2 separate regions of the Homo sapiens genome follow, and region 1 is linked to region 2. The links come from fine-mapping of genetic effects on gene expression. A gene starts in region 2. The other region holds a variant in brackets. All regions are shown on one strand. Distances are from middle to middle.

Region 1 (4,000 bases), 48 kb before region 2:
TATGCAACAGTCATTCTGTTAAGCGCTTTGTATACTACATTAATTTGCTGGGGCTGCTGTAACGAAGCACCACAAACTGAGTGGCCTAATCAACAGAAATCTATTGTCTCACAGTTCTAGAGGCTAGAAGTCCAAAATCAAGGTGTCAGCAGGGTTGGTTCTTTCGGAGGGCTATGAGAGAGAATCTATTCCAGGCCTCTCTCCTCTTTTCCAGTAATTTGCAGGCAGTCATTGATATTACTTGGCTTGTAGGTCTCTGCTTTCATCTGGCATTCTCCATGTGTCCAAATTGTCTCCTTCTTATAAGGACACCAGTCATATTGGATTAGGGGCCCACTCTACTCCAGTATAACTTCATCTTAATTATATATGCAATGATCCTAATTTCAAATGAGGTCACATTCTGAGGCTGGGGGTTTAGGACTTCAACATACAAATTTGAGGATCACCCAGTTCAACCTACAACACATACTTTTGCTAATATTTCCTTACCAAAATTACATGGTTATACCTACCCCATCCTACCAGACACTCAATATGAAATGAATTTAAAAATGAAGGATTATCATGCCTTTTTTAAAGTGAGGGGACTAAGGTACAGAAAGATTACCCAAGGTCATGGAAGTGGTAAGTGGCAGAACTACAAATCAAACTCAGATTTGAGTTGCTTAAATTAAATTTGAGTCTGATGAATAAGTGACCCAGCTAGCATGGGCTTCCCTCCACCAGCTAAGTTACACTGTTCTCTCTAGCAATGCTCATTTGCATCTGCTCTAAGCATAAAACAAGCTGTTCTTGCTTTGTGACATGAAGCATCAAGTTGATCATTCAAGAGACTTTGTTGTTCTATGCCAGGAAACTCTCCACTGGGAAATTGACAAGACTTCTTCTTATCTCCCCAGCACTCCCATGAAAGTTAACTTGCAGCTGGGCACGGTAGCTCGTGCCTGTAATCCCAGGACTTTGGGAGGCCGAGGAGGGCGGATCATGAGGTCAGGAGATCGAGACCATCCTGGCTAACACAGTGAAACCCCGTCTCTACTAAAAAAATACAAAAAAATTAGCCGGGCATGGTGGCGGGCGCCTGTAGTCCTGGCTACTCGGGAGGCTGAGGCAGGAGAATGGCATAAACCCAGGAGGCGGAGCTTGCAGTGAGCCGAGATGGCACCACTGCCCTCCAGCCTGGGCGACAGAGTGAGACTATGTTTCAAAAAAAAAAAAAAAAAAAAGAAAGAAAGTTAACTTGCTCGATTAATGTGGATTAAGGACTCAGACAAAAATTAGGTGGGAGCGGTGGTACATGCCTGTAATCCCAGCTACTTGGGAGGCTGAGGCAAGAGAATCACTTGAACCCAGGAGGCAGAGGTTGCAGGGAGCTGAGATCGCACCACTGCACTCCAGCCTGGGTGACAGAGCGAGACTCTGTCTCAAAAATAAAAAAAAATAAAAACAAAAAAGGACTCAGCATCTTGCTACTGGTTTTACTCCAAACTTGTTCCATCTGCCCAGAAAGGAAAGCAGATGCTGAAGAAACGTGAGATTTGGCCAAGTGCCGTGGCTCCCACCTATAATCTCAGCACTTTGGGAGGCCAAGGTGGGAGGATTGATTGAACACAGGAGTTCCACACCTGCCTGGGCAACATAGCAAGACCCCATCTCAATTAAAAAAGAAAGGAAGGCCAGATCCTCCTGATTGTATGGGGTAGAAAAAAGGTTACCTCCATTAACTTCCCTATTCAGCCCTGTTGACACTTCTCATGGGTCCTAACAGGTCTCTGGCCTCTAGCTCCTCCTGCTCACTCTCCCTCCCAGCCTGTTTTTCATTCAATCAGAAGAGGAGTCTTTCTGCAAGACTGCAGATGCTGGCATTACTTCTCTTGTTGTAACTCATCAGTGGTTCCCCAGGGGCCTTCAAGCTAGAACT[CA/C]AAACTCCATACTTGCCAGGTACACATGGTCCTGTTTACCCATCTAGTTTGATCCTTTGCCACACACTTCAGCATTCATTATGGAGCAAGACCAGACTTTCTGCAGTCGCCTGAAAGTACTGGCTGTTCCCTCCTTCCATGCCTTTGCATAGTTTTTTTTTTCTGGTCTGGTCTTCCTTTGTTAGCTTATCCATTTAGCTGGCTCCTATTCATCCTCCAACTCTACATTTTTTTTTTTTTTTGAGACAGGGTCTCACTCTATTGTCCAGGCTGGAGTATAGTGGCATGATCATAGCTCACTGCAGCCTCAAAATCCTGGGCCCAAGTGATTCTCATGCCTCAGCCTCACAAGTAGTTGAGACTATAGGCTCCTGCCACCATGCCCAGCTAATCAACTCTAAACTTTTGACATTGTGCCTTTTGCAAAACCTTCCTCTGCTACTTGTGAGCCAGTTTTCCATGCTGTTCTCTGCTACACTGCTGTGGACATTGCATATACCCCTGTTTTCATACATATCCCATGTGAATTAGTCTGTTCTCACGCTGCTATAAGGACATACCTGAGACTGGATAATTTATAAAGGGAAGAGGTTTAATTGATTCACAGTTCCACAGGGCTGGGGAAGCCTAAGGAAACTTATAATCGTGGCAGAAGGGAAAGCAAACATGTCCTTCACAAGGTGCCAGGAGAGAGAAGAATGAGAGCCAAGTGGGGGAAAGGCCCCTTAGAAAACCATCAATTCTTGTGAGAACTCACTCACTATCATGAGAACAGCATGAAGATAACTGCCCCCATGATTGAATTACCTCCCCGCAAGTCCCTCACACCACATGTGGGGATCATGGGAACTACAATTCAAGATAAGATTTGGGTGAGGACACAGCCAAACCATATCATCCCACTCCTGACCCCTCCCAAACCTCATGTCCTCACATTTCAAAACACAATCATGCATTTTGAACAGTCCCCTGAAGTCTTAGGCCATTCCAGTAATAGCCCAAAAGTCCAAGTCCAAAGTCTCATCTGAGACAAAGCAAGTCTTTTCCACCTATGAGCCTATAAAATCAAAAACAAGCTAGTTACTTCCTAGATATAAAGGGGGTACAGGCATTGGGAAAATACACCCCTTCCAAATGGGAGAAATTGGCCAAAACAAAGGAGCTATAGGCCCCATGCAAGTCCAAAATCCAGTAGGGCAATCATTAAATCTTAAAGCTCCAAAATGATCTCCTGCCTAGATCCACTTAAGCCTAGTGTTCCATTATTGGAATGCTAAGCATGTGGGAGTTGTTTATATCCTACTGCTCAAGGTCATTGCCAAGGTCAGATTTTTCACTCATGCAAAAATTCAAAAAATTGCAACCTCAGGCATAAATAGGTTAACTCCATGTCTCACATTAGGTCATGCTGATGCAAGAGGTGGGCTCCCACAGCCTTGGGCAGCTCCACCTCTGTGGCTTTGCAGGGTACAGCCCCCTCCCAACTGCCTTCACAGCTGGCATTGAGTGTCTGCAGCTTTTCCAGGTGCATGGTGCAAGCTGTCAGTGGATCTACCATTCTAGGGTCTGGAGGACAGTGGCCCTCTTTTCACAGTTCCACTAGGCAGTGCCCAGTGGGGACCCTGTGTAGGGGCTTGCACCCCACATTTCTCTTCCACACTGCTCTAGCAGAGGTTCTCCATAAGGGCTCCGCCCCTGCAGCAAACTTCTGCCTGGGCATCCAGGCACTTCCATACATCCTGTGAAATCTAGGCAAAGTTCTCCAAACCTGAACTCTTGACCTCTGCACACCCACAGGCCCAAAACCACATGGAAGCTGCCAAGGCCTGGGGCTTGCACCCTATGAAGCAACGGCCTGAGCTGTATGTTGGTCCCTTTTAGCCACAGCTGGAGTGGCTAGGATGCAGAGCACCAAGTCCCAAGGCTGCATACAGAAGTGGGGGCCCTGGACCCAGCCCTGAAAACCATTTTTCCCTCCTAGGCCTCCAGGCCTGTGATGGGAGGGGCTGTCATGAAGGTTCCTAACATGCTCAGGAGATATTTTCCCCATTGTCTTGGTAATTAACATTTGGCTC
Region 2 (4,519 bases):
TCAACCTATAATTTTACCACAAGAATTAATTATTTTCTTTTATTCACCACCTAGGACCGAGGTTCTTCATTCCGAGCCTCACAAAAGTCCTCAAAAAAAAAAAAAAAAACCCTCCTAAAACAAATCCTACCACGAGAAAATTGTTTTGATTTTTAAAATTAGTTCACTGTTACAGAATTCAACTAAAGCTAAAGAGAAACAACTCCTTTCAGAGAAGCACGTGGCAGGAAGGGGTAATTTCAACTTTCAACATATAAATGCAGCTTTAAAGATTCAGACCTTAGGTCCAACACCTGCTTGCTATTGATCATGCACGTTCTTATCTCCAAACTGCTTGCTCTTTTTTTTCATCCGCAACAAACTGGTAAAGCGAATGCAAAAATCAAGACAATCCTGTGAAACTCACAGTGCCCTAGAAACAACTATTAACCGCCAGTGAAACTCTGACCATGCTTCACGCACATGTGGTGGAAAAAAAAAACTGCGAACTCTAAAGAGCTCTGCTGCGACTAACGCTGTGACAGCCTCTGCACTCACTTCACCCACGAGGCCCAGACCCCACCACGTGAAAGATTCAGTTTGGGGAGTCGAGAGAGAGGATCGTGACTCGAGGACGTTCCTCGGGATGTCCTGCAATCACCAGTCTTCATTCATAATTCCCGCTCCTGGTTAATCGAGTGTGGCCAAACTCCTCCATTTCCCAACGGCTCAACTCACCCCAGCAAGTTATGAGAAAGTCCTAACAGTTGAGAGGTGGAAGAGAAACAAATAAAGGACATGCGGCACCCCAACCTGCAGCTTACTCCACACGTCTGATGGCCTGGAACGACCCCCTGCTTTTCAGCGGGGATACTCCGCGCCGTCGTGGGACAAGACGGCAGGACAGGAGCCTGAAACAACAGCACCTCAAAGGAGCAGCTCTGCGCAGTAAGCAGCGATGGACCCCCAAGCTCCTCCGTAACTACGGAAAGCTTCGGTGAGGGGCCGGCTTCCCCGCACCTCAGTCCATGCGCTCACCCGCCAAGGAATCCGGCGGGAAGGCAACAGCCTCCCAGGACCTCGAGCGCGCTCGAGGAGCAGCTCATCTCCGACCACGCTCCTCTGCTCACAACCTGAGGCGGGAAGGGGATGGCTCCGAGAACCTCGCCGGCGGTGGCTTGAACTTGGGGCTACCACGCTCCTGGCACCTTCGCAGGACCGGACTTTTGTCGCGTGAAGAAACGTGAGGATATAGGCGGCAAAGTCTCCCGCGGACCCTCGGAGCTCCAGAAACAAGTGGCAGCCGGCAGCCCCCTCGCTCCTTCCCTCCATCCCAGTCTCCCCCACATTCTGCCCCTGCTTTACCTTCTTTCTTAAGCGCCACGGGCGGCTGCGTCTCCTCTTTCTTGTCAACCACGCCAACGCTGGGGGGCAGCGGGTTCTTGCGGTCTTTCTGGGACTCCTTGCGCAGCTGTTTGCCTGCCGCGTTGGAGTTGGTCTGGGCCGCGGCCTGAGCTGCGCTCTTGGCCCCAGGGCCCCCAACGCCGCCCCCGCCGGCTTCTTTTTTCTTGTTCTCTGCTGCCTTCAGCACCTCGAAGGGGTCCGATTCGTCGTCAAATAACTGGTCGAATCGGTTGGTGACCACGCAGCCGAAGCCTTCCTGTAAGTGCCCAGGCATGATGGTGGCTCGGCGGCGCGTTCCTCCACGGATTGCAGCGGGCCGCGCCGAGCCAAGAGCGCCTGCTTCAGCTCTTCCCACAAGATGGCCGGGCCGAGAGAGGGGGGCCGTCTTCTCTTCCGGCGCCAGGCACACATCCGGGAGCGGCCTGCGCCGCAAGGCACTGTGGGGTATGTAGGCCAGAGTCATTTCTCCTGAGGCGACTCTCCGCGTCGGGACTACAATTCCCAGGACGCACCGCGCGACAACTCTTCGCGCGCGCCTGAGAGGCGAGACCCCATGAGGGGAGTGAAGCGTGCGGGCTGAAGGAAGGGAAGCGTGGTGGTGGGCGGAGTCCTGCCACCTGCTCTGGCCACCCTTAAACTCTCTAGGTCTTCAGCTACCTTGAAACCAAAAAACCGTGACGGCGTAACTGACTCGCGAAAGTGCTCTTTGGTTTCACTCACGCCCCCTCGGGCTCAGGGCTAACTTTCCCCACCGCTCCAGGGGGGTCAAGGTGACTCCCAGACCTTACATCTGAGACGCACAAACTTCCGGGGGAGGGGGTGTTGCTGAGGCGCCGCGCCGGCCGCGGGTAGGCTGGACCCTGCCTGTGCCAAGTCCGAGCTGCTCAGTTGCTGGAGTGGCCCTCCGTCAGCCTCCACGGTGAATCGAGGCTCTTCTGTCTAATGTGAGGGGGAATACGTTTCCTCTCGCGGGGACATGAACTAGGGTAGCAGAACTAACCAAAAAGACAAGTGAAACTATCACATGGGAGCGTGGCGCGTCTTTCCCGGGCTTCTCACCGTGTGGCGGCGGGTGTCGTAGGAGTGGTTAACTCCTGACGGTGCAGCGCTAGACGCGGGGCAAGCCTCCAGGAAGCACTGTTTATAGAAACCCTGTTACAATTATTCCAATTAATCGTCCGTTCGTGTCCGGCAAGTCAGGGCTTAGGTGGCTGTGTTGTTAGTCACATGCGCTCAATACATATCATTTGAGAACATTTCGAGTGCATGTGTGCTAGGAGTTGCGGTGAGGGGAGGGAAATATTGAAGTCAACACTTAATAATGACAAAGCATTGATACTAGTTGAGAATATTAAAATTCATTAAAAGAATACAATTTGAATGCGTATTTAAGCACATTTGGTAGCACCGGGTTTAAGTATATCATAATTTTTAAGTCCTTTTCCATTAACACAAAGTAGCAAATGCATCGCTTATTTGGTAGGAGCTATGAATAACCTTGAACTCAACATTTTGTTAGGCAAATAGTTTGCCTCTTTTCACAAATGTTGAAACCACTTCAGAGATGAAATGATTTACCAAATTCACACCTCTGTAAGTGCTAGTGACAGGCATTAGCCCAGTATTCTATCTCCACTAGGAGACTGGACATCAGCTCTTTAATTCAGACTGCCCTGATAGAAAGCAGTCCAATTTTTAAATTTCCGATATAATTTAAACATTGTTGCGTGTCAGGATATGTAACATGGCGGAATGTAATCATCAATTTCCGAGCAGATTTTAAATCAATTCCTTAGCAGGGAAAATAGAAGACACGAGTCATATTACATACATGGGGCAGCAAGCCTCCTGGTTTTCTTGTTTCTCAATCCTCCCCTATTCCTCACTTATTTCCCTGCTGCCTCAGTCCTGCACCCTGCCCACAACGCCCAACCTCAAACACACCCCCTATCTCATCCCCCCTTCCACAGGCTCTGGTTCTGTGGCACCTACCAAGACAAGGAGCTTTTGACCATACTCTTCCCACCTTTTTGAAATAGCTCAAGTGCAATGTAGAAGATCTCCACATTTTGACAGATTTTCTCTCTTCACGGGCTGTTGCGTCTCTGAGACTGCCTGCATCTTTGAGACATCTGTGAAAGCTCCTCTTCTTAACTCTTTCTGGCCACGGCCACAGTAACAATATTCATACTAAAACGTGATGTTTTAGTGTGTGCTTGGTGCACTTTACATACGTGATCTCCTTTAAACCTTACATCAACTCTATAAGAAAGTTATTACTCCATACCTCCCCCCCGCAAAAAAAAAGTTATTGCTCCTGTTTTAAGATTAGGAAAATGAAAACAAAGAGCTTAAGTAAGTTAACTACTCCTGCCACAATCTGGGGGGTGGGGCAGGCCTGTTGTTATTCATTTTTCTCCTCCATTACAGATTTCTGGTTTGCTCAAACAGAGCTTCGTAACCACCAAGCATTATTACAATAAGAATATTTGAAAATAAGCTACACATAGAGGAATTTTCTGGCTATGAATTTATGAGGTTCATTTATGCTCTTCAGAGAATTTACCTATTAAGATTACATAAAAATGTTATGAATAAGCATTTGGAGAAAAGGGGAGAATCTTCTATATTTCCAAAAAGTTTTGAAGCCCATTTTTAAAGTATACAAATAAAGCTCAAGGTGGTCTTTTACATCTCTCAATCGTTATTTTATAACTAGTTATTTTCACTAATGTTTCCTTTATTCTACAAAATTGAAATATTAATTTCTTAATATTAAATATTAAAATGTCTAAAAGTTCTTGCTACTCTCAATAGGAGAACATCAGCCAAATAAACCTCAAGGGAAGAGAAATTTCCTAGACACTATTATTCAAATTAAAGAAATGATTTATGAAAGCAACAAGTGTCAGACGATATCACTAGACATGTGGCCTAAAATGTCATCTCTCTGTAGCAATATTTGAATCACATCTTCTTCTCTGAAAAATACTCATGAAACTTCACAGTCTTATCTACAAGGATTTTCTAGCAATAAATGCTGAAAACCATGATTAAATATCTGATAGAGTTGCCTAATGTTAACAAAATGGAGAAACAATATTGTATCTCCTTCCTTCCTGCCTTCATTTACTTT

Alleles and levels. Alleles are on the strand shown, and positions count from the first base shown. SD is a standard deviation of normalised expression in the study named.
For the expression in sun-exposed skin of the gene that starts at base 1,759 in region 2, C is the low allele of the variant in region 1 and CA is the other (small effect, 0.24 SD a copy in GTEx).

The links. PIP is the estimated chance that this variant, and not a neighbour inherited with it, causes the effect.
Region 1: its variant is the best candidate, but not a certain one, in a credible set for the expression of SERBP1 in sun-exposed skin (GTEx, PIP 0.66).

Annotation. Positions count from the first base shown.
Region 1 is chr1:67,380,557-67,384,556 of GRCh38, forward strand. All of the region lies in intron 14 of IL12RB2 (interleukin 12 receptor subunit beta 2), which reads left to right. Among named protein-coding and RNA genes, the nearest start is that of SERBP1, 48 kb to the right of the region's middle. The variant CA/C (reference allele first, on the strand shown) is at 1,925.
Region 2 is chr1:67,428,644-67,433,162 of GRCh38, forward strand. SERBP1 (SERPINE1 mRNA binding protein 1) reads right to left here and starts at 1,759. Exons shown (of 8, transcript NM_001018069.2): 1 at 1,345-1,759. The coding sequence starts at 1,657. RefSeq lists enhancers at 296-932, 1,568-2,203, 1,641-1,910, 2,121-2,200, 2,231-2,410.